Regions from separate parts of the Homo sapiens genome. Here region 1 is linked to region 2. Evidence: fine-mapped expression QTL. Tissue or cell type: whole blood. Region 2 holds a variant in brackets; the other region holds the start of a gene. All regions are shown on one strand. Distances are between the middles of the regions.

Region 1 (5,373 bases), 66 kb before region 2:
TTTTCAGGGATGGATTCCTCTCCCCAAGGGCCTGGGCCTGGGTGTGGGTGGGGCTGGTGTGAATAGGGGCCCCCTAAGACAGTACTCTTTTCTGAGGGGCACTCAGACATCTCAGTCTTGCTCCTCCATCTCCCTGACATCCCACCAATCCACTCAAGCCCCATCGCACCTGCCCCAACCAGACCTCATTCCTGTAAAAGTCATCACAATATCTTCTTCTGGTCTCACCCGCTCTGAGCCACTCCTTATGGAGAAAGAACTCCCTAGAACCTGTCTGTCAGTCTCTAGGCCCCTCAGAGCAAAAACCAAGTCTGCCTCCCCTTGAGGCCCCGGTCCCAGCAGGACCCTGCAGGAGTTGGTGCTCAGCAGTGCTTGTGTGCCTGGGCTGAGGAGAAGGTTGTGGTGGTCACGTGGTTGGCTTTCGGCATCCCCGGCTGCCCATTCGCAAGGCCAACCATGGGGAAGTATGAGCACGTGACCCACCTAGGGCCAAGGAGACACAAGGGAAGGTCTCCTGGGGAGCTGGGCAGAAGGGAGGGTGCAGGGGCTTTGGAGAAAATGAGACACAAGGGCAGGTGTCCTTTTCTTTCTCTGCTTGTGGCTGTGTCTGGAGTTGTAGATGAGCTGCTGCAGCTCCTTGGCCTCCAGCCCAAGGAGGAAGATCGTAAATGCAAGAGAAACTCAGAGAGACTGAGCTGAAGCCCTCATGTACCACAGCTGGAGGCTGCCCTGCCTCCAGCCCCGTTGTGTAGATGACAGCACACGTCCTCTGTGTCAGACCCTCTGGTTTATGTTCTTTGCAGCCAAAAGCATCCTCAACTGATGCGAATAACACAGTGATGCAGAATAGCATGTGCTAAAGGCTGGCCTCTCATTCCTATGGCACCATCAGCCCCGGTGGCTTCCCTAGATTGTTTTTCCTTTTATTGACTTGGGTGAGAGGGTCTCGAGGTAGAACTGGAGAAAGGAACAATGAAACGCTTTTTGAATAGAGGGCTGTTAGTAAAAGACAACTGTGGAAGTTAAGAGCGTGTGCTTTGGCTTCGGACAGATCTAGGACCAAAGCCCAGCCTTCTGCTTATTGCCTGCTACTTGGGTGCGTTACTTACACTCTTTAATCACTAGTTTGCCCCTCTGTAAAGTGGGGATAATGACAGTGTAACTGAGGTGGTCCGTGTGAAAAGCAGAATGATGTACCCGGTGCTGGGTAAGTACTCCAAAGCCGAATTGGCTGTCTGGTCGCCCAGCCTGGGGACCTGCAACAGGTAAGGGTGGAAGGGAGGGGAGGAGGAAGGCCTCTCTAGTAGAGAATTGCAGAGTCTCTCCAGAGGTTCCTCACATTACTTCCTTCCCCAGTTGCTCCAGCCCGTCACCAGCATGGCCCTCCATCCGGGGCTGCCCTGGCTGGACAGGTACAGTTGGGAAAGGAAGGCCTCATGTGTGGGAGCCTTGAGGTTGGCTTTGAGGGTGGGAGGATTTGCCCAGGTAAGGAAGATCAAGGAAGGCTTGCCAGAAGGGAGGCTGGGAACAGAGCAGGTGGGAGTGGGAAAGGTGCCTCCAGGGAGAGGGAAGAGGCCTGGCTGGAGCAGAAGTCTCTGGGAGGTGATGGGAAGGACACCTAGAGAGGCAGGGCAGGGAGCCCAGCTGTAAAAATTTCTGCCAATAAGCAGGCAGGAGCCTTCTGTTAACAGAGGGTCTCTAGTCTGCTCCAGACCTAGAGGCATCATCCCATCTGATGGATGGAGAAACTGAGCTCAGGGAGGCTGAGCCAGTGCTATCAGAGGTGGTGGTGCCATTGGGAGGTGAGGTGCAGCCTGGCTCACTCTATGGCCTACAAAGTTCAAGGGGATTTTTACACTATTAATTGTCTTCAGCTGCAAGTAACAAAAAACCTGACTGGGGCGCCTTACAGATTAAAGATTAGCTCAAATCCAAGGTTTCTGGAGGTGAGGGCCTTCTGGGGGCAGTCCCATTGCTCTGCAATCCTCCCCAAAGTGTTTCCTCTTGGGTGGCTATTTCAGAGCCTGGGTGTGCCCCCTCTCTCTAAACCCTGGGCATGCATAATGGGCACTTGGGAGCTCAACTATTTCATCTGCAGCAGCTCTCATCTTATCACCCCGTCAGCTGTAAGGCAGACATCAGTGAGGGTGGTGATTTGCGGACAATCCCTGACTCACCCCATTTTGCCAGCCTGCCCTGGGCTCAGGACTTCCTGCTGCATCTTCTGCTGAGCCGGCAGGGCGTGGCGTCTCAGGGCTGGGGCTGGGGCTCTAGTCCAGGGCTCTTCCTAAGGTGGTACCACACAGTGCCCCCAGCACCTGCCCACCAAACTGGAAATTCCAGAAATATTCTCGACACCGTCTACTTTCCAAAGACTGGGTGTGGCAGATGAGGAAGCTGAGGCTCAGCGAGTTGGGGGGTCTATTAAGGTCCCTCAGCCCCTGAAAGGTGGGGTCAAAATTAAACAAAAACTGGGCCTCAGACTGGGTTTCCAAACACCCCACTCTGTGCCTTGATAATCCTGTTTCTCTCTCCATCCATTCCCATTCACTGAGCCGGAAGCCTCCATCTTCAGAAGGGGGTTCTCTGCCCCAAACAGCGTCTAATCTGGAGACTTGCGGTGGTGGCGGTGGTGGTGGTGGGGGCAGTGCCGGGGCCTCAGGCTGTTCTCCCTCATCTTGCTGCCTGCTCACCTTGCCTCTGTGTGCTCACAGCCCCCCAGAGCACAGCTGTGTCTGCTCCCAGACTATGGGCTCCTTGAGGGCAGGACCTGGTTTGGGTCCCAGAGCAGCCAGGGTTTGATGAATGACAGATGCCCTAGACCTGGGTAAGCCCCTCCAGAATGACTTGCTAGTGCGGGGTGGGGAGTCTGGCATCTCTGGGCCCAGCCTGGAAGGGTGCTGGACTGGCTGGCGGGTGACACACCTGGGGTTCCTGGGCCCCTCCTGGCCACACTGTCAGTGGGCCTCAAGCTCCCTTAGCATATGGCCTCTGGAATAAAGTGAGCCCGCACCTCGGGAGGGGGCAAGCAGAGGCAGGAGCAGGATGGCAGGTGGCAGGCGGGGCTGCACAGGGGAGCACAGCAACTCCACTTCCTGTGGGCGAGGGCCCTGTGCCTGCCCCGGGGGAGGTTGCACAAACCTTCCTGCGCAGGCCTCGGGCTGCCTGCCTGCCTGCCTGCCTGGCCCGGCCCGAGCTCCAGCCTGCCTCTTCCACTGGCCACTGCCTCCCACCCAGGGCTGGCATCCCTGCTCCCTGCCCTGGGTCCCAGACTGTGTCCTCCATCACCGCAGGGTCGGTGAGGGGCTGGGCTGGACACCAGGGCCCGCCCTCCCATCACTGAGCTCCACTCCTTCCTCATTTTGCTGCTGATTCTAGCCCCAAACAAAACAGGTTGAGCTTTTTCCTCCCCTCAGAAGCTCCTCTCTGGCTCGTGGCTGCCTTCTGAGTGTTGCAGACGGCGCCGGCCGGGAAGGGGGGCCTGGGCCAGCCCTGCCAGGACTGGGACGCTGCTGCTGGCGCCTGGCCCTCCATCAGGCCAGCCTGTGGCAGGAGAGTGAGCTTTGCCGCGGCAGACGCCTGAGGATGATGCCCCAGCTGCAGTTCAAAGATGCCTTTTGGGTGAGTGAGGATGGTTGGGGGCACTGAACAAGTGGAGGGGGCAGAGCTAGGCTGAAATCTCCATGCAGGTGATGGGATGCGGCTCCGAGAGGGGAGCTTTCTCATAAAATAGTGGTTGATTCTTGGTCTTAATTGTCATGGAGGTGGCCCAGGCCCCCACCCCTTCTGGACTGGAACGCAAGTGGACTCCGTGAATGAGCGTCCTCCTCTCTGCTGCCCCGTGTGTTTTCTCCTCTGGGAGACCTCTCCCCACAGCAGGAGCTCCTCAGAAGAGGGTAACACATGGGTGGGGGCTTGAGGAGGATGTGTGGGGCAGCAAAGGAGGGGTCACAGATTTAGAGACCAGACAAACTTGAGTTCAGGTCTTGGCTCTGTTACAGGCTGGGCAAGTCATTTCTGTCTCCAAGCCTCAGTCTCTCCATCTATATAATGGTGATAAAATAGAAATCAACACACCAACTAAAGCATTGGATCAGCAAGGGGATCCAAGGCACTAAAGCCCCCAGCACCTTGCCTCACTCCAAATGGTAATTCTGTTCCCCTCACCCAGCCCCTTGTCCCTTGCAGACCTTAGGGGTCCTTCAAGGAGGCAGCCAGGTGGGCAATGGCTTGCTTACTTTCTTAAATTCAACACGGGCTTAAATCAAGTCATTTCCCCCATGAAATAAGGGCGCCCAGCCAGTGGTAGAGGTAAAGTGGCTTGGCCCGGGCCACGTAGCCTGCAGCCCAGCTTGGACCCCTGGTCATCTCAGCACTTTTCCAGCTGTCCTTCAACTACCCCTCTGCCCCTCAGCTCTGGCTGTGCCCAGGGCTCTGGGGAAAAACTGAGACCTCTCTGGTTGGAGCTGGGGAATGTGGCTGTCCCGGGGTGCTGCCTCCAACCCCGAAGAGGACGCTCTGGCCCTCGGCTCAGCCGGCTGAGCCCCAGCCAACAGCCCTGCCCTCCCCGGGCCTTTTCCTGGGGCTGCAGCCAGGAGGATGAGAGCTATGGAGCCAGGCCTTCCTTCCCTTCCGGCCGGCTCCACTTGGGGCCTGTGGCCAGCGTGTGAGTGTTCTGCTTCCTCTGCTCTGACTGTACAGTAGGCAAAGGACCCCACGTGGGGAGGGCACCTTGTGCCTTTCTGGGCCTCAGTTTCCCCATCTCTACAAAGACAGGGTGGGCCCAGCCCAGAGAAGCCAATGGAGGCAGAGCTGCCTCAGCCCATCCGGAGGACCAGGCACCAGGATGCTCAGGGCCCAGGCTGGCAGCTGGAGCCCTGGGGGATGGGGGATGTGAGTCACCACCTAGCTGCCCTGCCTTGGTGTGCAAAGTTGGGGGAAGGGGTAGGGCCTGGAAACCCAGGCCACTCTGTAGCCCAGGGCAGGCCAGGACCCCTTGACTATTTTATCACTGAGACCTCTGTCCAGTCCTAGAGCCCCTGGGCCTGCCTTCCCTAGGGCAGAGCTGGGCAAGGAGCAGCCTCCATGGCAGGATCTGGGCACAGGTAGGGGTGGCGTATAAGGGAGCAGGGTATGGCAGCCGCAGCAGAAGCAAGCAGCCAGCCCCTGTGGAGCTTCCTGAGCGGCATCCTGCCCACACTCTGTGCTCGTCGCACCTCTGGGCTTCCTGGCCTCCAAGTGCCTTGTCTCCTCTGTGTCTGGCTCCCTGAGCCTGGGGCGGGCATATAGTTTCCCTAGGGAAGGCCAGAGCAGGAAGGGGAGAGAAGTAGCCAGTGGGAACCTCTCACACTGAGTCTGGGCCGATGCCCCGAA
Region 2 (5,364 bases):
AACCCTTTCTGCCTTCCTGCCCAGCCCATCTAATCTTCCCTTACATTCCTATCATAGCAAAAGGTACCAGACATCTAATTTTTCTGGTCAAACATCTGAGGATTAACTTTCCTTGCCCCACCTCTATAACCCATAAATCACAAAACTTCAACTTTACTTCCAAAACATTATTCGAATACCTCAACTCCTCTTCAACCCCACTGCAGTGCTTCTGTCTTAATTTGGGCCTTATCTTATCCCCCTAAATCTTACTTATTGACTCTCCCTGCATCTTAATACATTCTTTATACTACCAGGGTTATATTTATTAAAAATACAAACCAGATCAAGCCATAGCCTTACTTAAAATCAGGATGAGGCAAGTGAGTCCCCGATGAACCAAGCTATTCCTCCTTTTCAGCCCCAGATCTCATTACCCCTTGTGAACTATGAACAATATAGAACTGTTATACCCAAATGGACCACATATTCTCTCACTTCTTTGCCTCCGCTGTTCTCTCTAGAATGCTCTCTTCAAATGCCTGGGAACTCCTTGTCGCTCATTAAGATGAAGCTTAAATGTTACCTCTTCCTTTTGGAAGCCATTCTTGACCATTTCAGGCTGGATTAGCTGCCCTTGGTGGACACAAACATCTCCCAGTGCATGGTTCTAACAGAATATTTATCGAAACGGTTGCAATTATAGCTATACCTGTCTCAACACACCTTGAGAGCACGAATTGTACCCATCTGTCCTTCACCCTTGTATCATCTAGAACAGTACTTGGCAGACAGCAGGTATCAGTTAAAGTTTATTGAGTACACCTCATCTCACCCCTTTCCCTTGAAATCACCCTCCCAACTCTATCATAAGCTTTGGTTTGTATTTGCGTTGGTTTGTATTTGTATTTGGTTTGTATCTGGTTTCTCTTCAGTTCAATGCTTATAGCTTTTAGTTCACTATTCAATTATTTGGCAACTGAATCCAGCTTGCTGAATTCTGATGGCCATTACATCTGGAATATGTTAATATATCGTAAATATGTCATAAATATAAACACTGTACTTACAGCAAACTGCCTGTTCAAAGGTTCTCAGAGTTCACTGACATATTTGCTTTTGGGGCATGGTACTAGAGAATGAAGGTGAGCACAAAAGTGGGGGGGAGTGGAGAAGAGAAATAGTTTAATTTATCTTAATTTTATTTTATTTTATTTATTTTTTGAGACGGAGTCTCACTCAGTCGCCCAGGCTGGAGTGCAGTGGCGCAATCTCAGCTCACTGCAGGCTCCGTCTCCCAGGTTCACGCCATTCTCCTGCCTCAGCCTCCCGAGTAGCTGGGATTACAGGCGCCCGCCACTACACCTGGCTAATTTTTTGTATTTTTAGTGGAGACGGGGTTTCACCGTGTTAGCCAGGATGGTCTCGATGTCCTGACCTCGTGATCCGCCCGCCTCGGCCTCCCAAAGTGCTGGGATTACAGGCGTGAGCCATTGCGCCTGGCCAGACATAGCTTAATTTTAATTTGGGTGCATTTATTACAGAAGTATGTCAACTACTTAACACTCTTCCCAAATACCCCTTTTTATTGACTACTTGTGTGATATATATTCACACACATGTACACACACACATTTTGCTAAAGTAAATAGTATCAGTCCTCACGCTAAATTAGAAGCAATCTGAAGTGCAAATTAATCAAATTTTGTCATTTGTTTTTATTAGACGTTTCTCTATCCTTTAATGTTGTAGGTTTTTTTTACTCTAAAAGGCAGTATTTATTTCTTAAAAGGCTTGAGTTAAAATGAATTCCATTTCTGAGCTTTCGGTACACCTACTGAAACTTCACTAGCTTTAGCCTATGTAAATTCGAATGAAAATAAGAGAAAACTGGAGGCCATATGTACTTAACAATCAACCTGAAGCACAGTTCACTGAAGAACTACTTGCATTTTAGATATAAATTGATGAGTTTTCAATCTAAAGAGGTTCCTATGAGACTCACACTTAGTGCTGCTTGGAGGTGGGCCAAGGGAAATGTTTCCTCTGCTGCCACTGCCTCTCCCCCCTAAAAGAGGCACTCATCTGAAACTGAGACTACAAGAAAGCAGAAAAACCAGCAACAGAGACAACCAGATGCACAACAAATGCAATGGAGGGCTGTGGGGAGATGCCATTTGTAAAGCTGCCTCTTCTTTTCTGATAGACTCTACAACAGTTTTTTTTCCCAGGCTGCAGTCAACATCCAAGTCACACAACAAGATGAGAACATAACAAAGCTCTATTTGGCAACATATAGTTAAAGGAACTTACTAGTTGCACACACCAAAGAGAAAACTGCACGGATTGCTGATATGAAACTATA[C/T]ACATCAAATTGCTTATAAATAGACGATGTGTTTCCTAAATTGAAAACAGCTTCAAATTTTGCTTTTACTGAAATCTGTATATGGTGCTTATATCTTAAGCTGTATAATAAACAATTATGAAATGACACTGGTTACTTTGAAAATATAGAAGAGGTATCCCAGTAGCAGCTGAAGACCTAAAAACAGCCAAAAGTAATTGTTGTAATGATATCCAACCATCAATATGAAAAACACCCAAAAGAACATGGGAAACAGTATAGTAAATGGAAGAGAGGTTCTAAGAAATTCCTAACTAGTATGCATAGGGACTTTGTCATCCCTCAGATTTTTAATGCAGAAATTGTGGCTATCAGAAAAGCTATATAAAAGGTGAGCTTAAATTCTTCTTTTGAAGGGCCATGATGGGATTGAGATCTATCAAAGGATCTGAGCTTTGCCAATAAAGCAGCTGCAAAGGAGGGGGCTGGGGAGGAGGGAGGTGCAACAGAAAAGGAGATGAAATGTAGAACTTGGAAGCAGCTGAACTGCTTTAGTCACCACTGAGAAAATCTGAGCCTGTAAGGAGGATTTGTGCCAGGACAGTGTACTAAAAATATTCATCCTTTTTACAAAGAAGTGAAAGGAAATTTAGGCAAAAGGCTGAGGTCTGAAATTACAGAAAGAATAATTTTTAAAAAACCATTATTCTTTATCTTTTAATAAGCCTATACTCTAAATTAAGTCACAACATTTTAAAACTTTAGGAGAGCCAGTGCTTTTCCACTAAGCTGTCTAAAAAATAAAGCCATCTTGTTATAAAATTTTGCAAGTATATGAGTTCCAAAAGTATGATACTTCATTTTATGCTTTTACCCTTCCTCTACATATGCACAAATGTGAAATATCTTAAAGAGATTTCATTCTTATATGAGATTGCTTTTTCCATAGCTTAGAAACTAGTTTTTGGGGGGGTAATTTTCAAATATTCTATGAAAGAGACAAGTAGATAAAATGTTAAAATCTGGGCCAGGCGCAGTAGCTCACACCAGTAATCCCAGCACTTTGGGAGGCCAAGGCCGGCAGATCATCTGAGGTCATGAATTCGAGACCGGCCTGACCAACATGCAGAAACCCCGTCTCTACTAAAAATACAAAATTAGCCGGGCGTGGTGGCACATGCCTGTAATCCCAGCTACTCAGAAACGCTGAGGCAGGAGAATCGCTTGAACCTGGAAGGCAGAGGTTGCAGTGAGCCGAGATTGCGCCACTGCACTCCAGCCTGGGCAACAAGAGCAAAACTCAGTCTCAAAAAATTAAAAAAAAAAAAGTTAAAATCTGTAAAACTATTAAATTCCTTTTCATCAACCACGGTGTAACCTGCCATTGGAATGTGGCAATATTAAAAATGAAACAGATTTGCTACAAGTGGGGAGATAAAGTAGCTCTGTTGCCAAAAGTATACCTACATGGAGATTTAGAAATACAAAGGCGAAAGCATCCCACAGGACATTTTGGGCGAAGCTGAAGCAAAGAATAGAAGTGATTTTCTTGCAGTGGTATGTAGTAGCCATTGATGATGATTCCCATCTAGAACTGGCAAGAATCAAAACAATGTAAAGACAAGGCACCATCTGGACTTTATTCACCTAAAAGCACAGTGCCTGACAAATTCTTGCTTGCCTGTGTGAACTGCTCCCTTCGGAGTGATTTTTGCCAAAGAATCAATTAGTAAAGTAGAAGTGACTGGAGTGTTGAGAGAAAGGAAAAAAGTCAAGAAGTAAAAGACTGAGCAAAAAATGCTGTACTCTAGACTTTGTAAGAAAGCAGGTTTTAAAAGCAGAGGGAAAAAATAGGCAGGAATCCATCTTATGCATATATCTTTTTAACATTAAATCCAGAGTTTCCTGTACTGTCATATTATTTTTCATATACCTCTTTTCTCTCCTGGGAAGAATCGTTGGTAATTCCACACAGTGGATTTCTGAAAGCTTCCCCAAACTTCACCCTTATGCCATTACAAGTGTCTTAAAATCATCTTAAATCGTTTAGCATTCTACTTGCCATAATGTATATTCTCTAATTCAACCATGCTTTCACCTCTGACTTAATCTGATAGAACAGTTTACGTCACTAAACACAACTACTTCTTATGTAAGTCCACTACCTGAATATATCATTTACTCTCCTACCAACTCTCAAGGAAAAAAGGCCATTCCAAAGACTCCAAATCCTCTTTCAGAAATTAAAGCTACTCTTACCAAGAATTTCTGAAGCTATTAAATACTATCATTTTCTACCTAACAAACTGATCAGCAATAAAGTTAAGGAGTATTCAAAGATGTGTGAGGGTGCAGAGAGAAGGGCCCTCAGATGGGCGGAAGCACAAACTAATAGAGAATCATTTTTTTGGAAACAATCTGGCAATACATATCTGCCTCAGCATTGATGCCTTTATACCTACTTATTCCACTTCCAGGAATCTATCCTTTAGAAAGTTAGTCAGAAACACAGATTTGTGTAAAAGGTAATTCATCGAGATGTTGTAATGAAATTGTGGCTGCAAAAATGAAAATGAAAAAGCCCTGGTATTCAGAGGTGTGTCTGCATTCAGCCCTGAAATATTTTCTTAAAGCATCATTTAATAATATGCTTGTGGTGTGATAGGGGAAAAAACACATATATCACATATTGGAAACAAACCAAAATGTTGATATTGGTTGTCTCTGGGTGGTAGAATTATGGGTGATACCAGTTTGCTTTTTAAAATACTTTTAGTGTCTTCTTTAAAATATATTACTTGCATAATTAGAATAATAGTTAAAATTATGTCTGAAATTGAGGCTTTAATGTTCTCTCACCAATGAATTCATTCCTGGATGTGTCCTTAACCAACCAAAAACAGACACCTCTTCCATCCTAAATATTTTAGGCACCTCTGCCAATCTCTCCCACTTACCACTTTTCTCAGGTCTGTGTGGCTTTGACTCATCCTGTACATGTTTTCTGATTATCTAACACAATTCTTTCAATGTACATTATG

The links.
Region 1: PSTPIP1 starts here. The variant in region 2 is fine-mapped to the expression of PSTPIP1 in whole blood (TOPMed, PIP 0.97).

Annotation. Positions count from the first base shown.
Region 1 is chr15:76,991,989-76,997,361 of GRCh38, forward strand. It overlaps PSTPIP1 (proline-serine-threonine phosphatase interacting protein 1), which reads left to right and starts at 3,138. Exons shown (of 15, transcript NM_003978.5): 1 at 3,138-3,621. The coding sequence starts at 3,586. RefSeq lists an enhancer at 2,843-2,892 and a silencer at 3,133-3,322.
Region 2 is chr15:77,057,898-77,063,261 of GRCh38, forward strand. All of the region lies in intron 1 of TSPAN3 (tetraspanin 3), which reads right to left. Among named protein-coding and RNA genes, the nearest start is that of TSPAN3, 11 kb to the right of the region's middle. The variant C/T (reference allele first, on the strand shown) is at 2,345.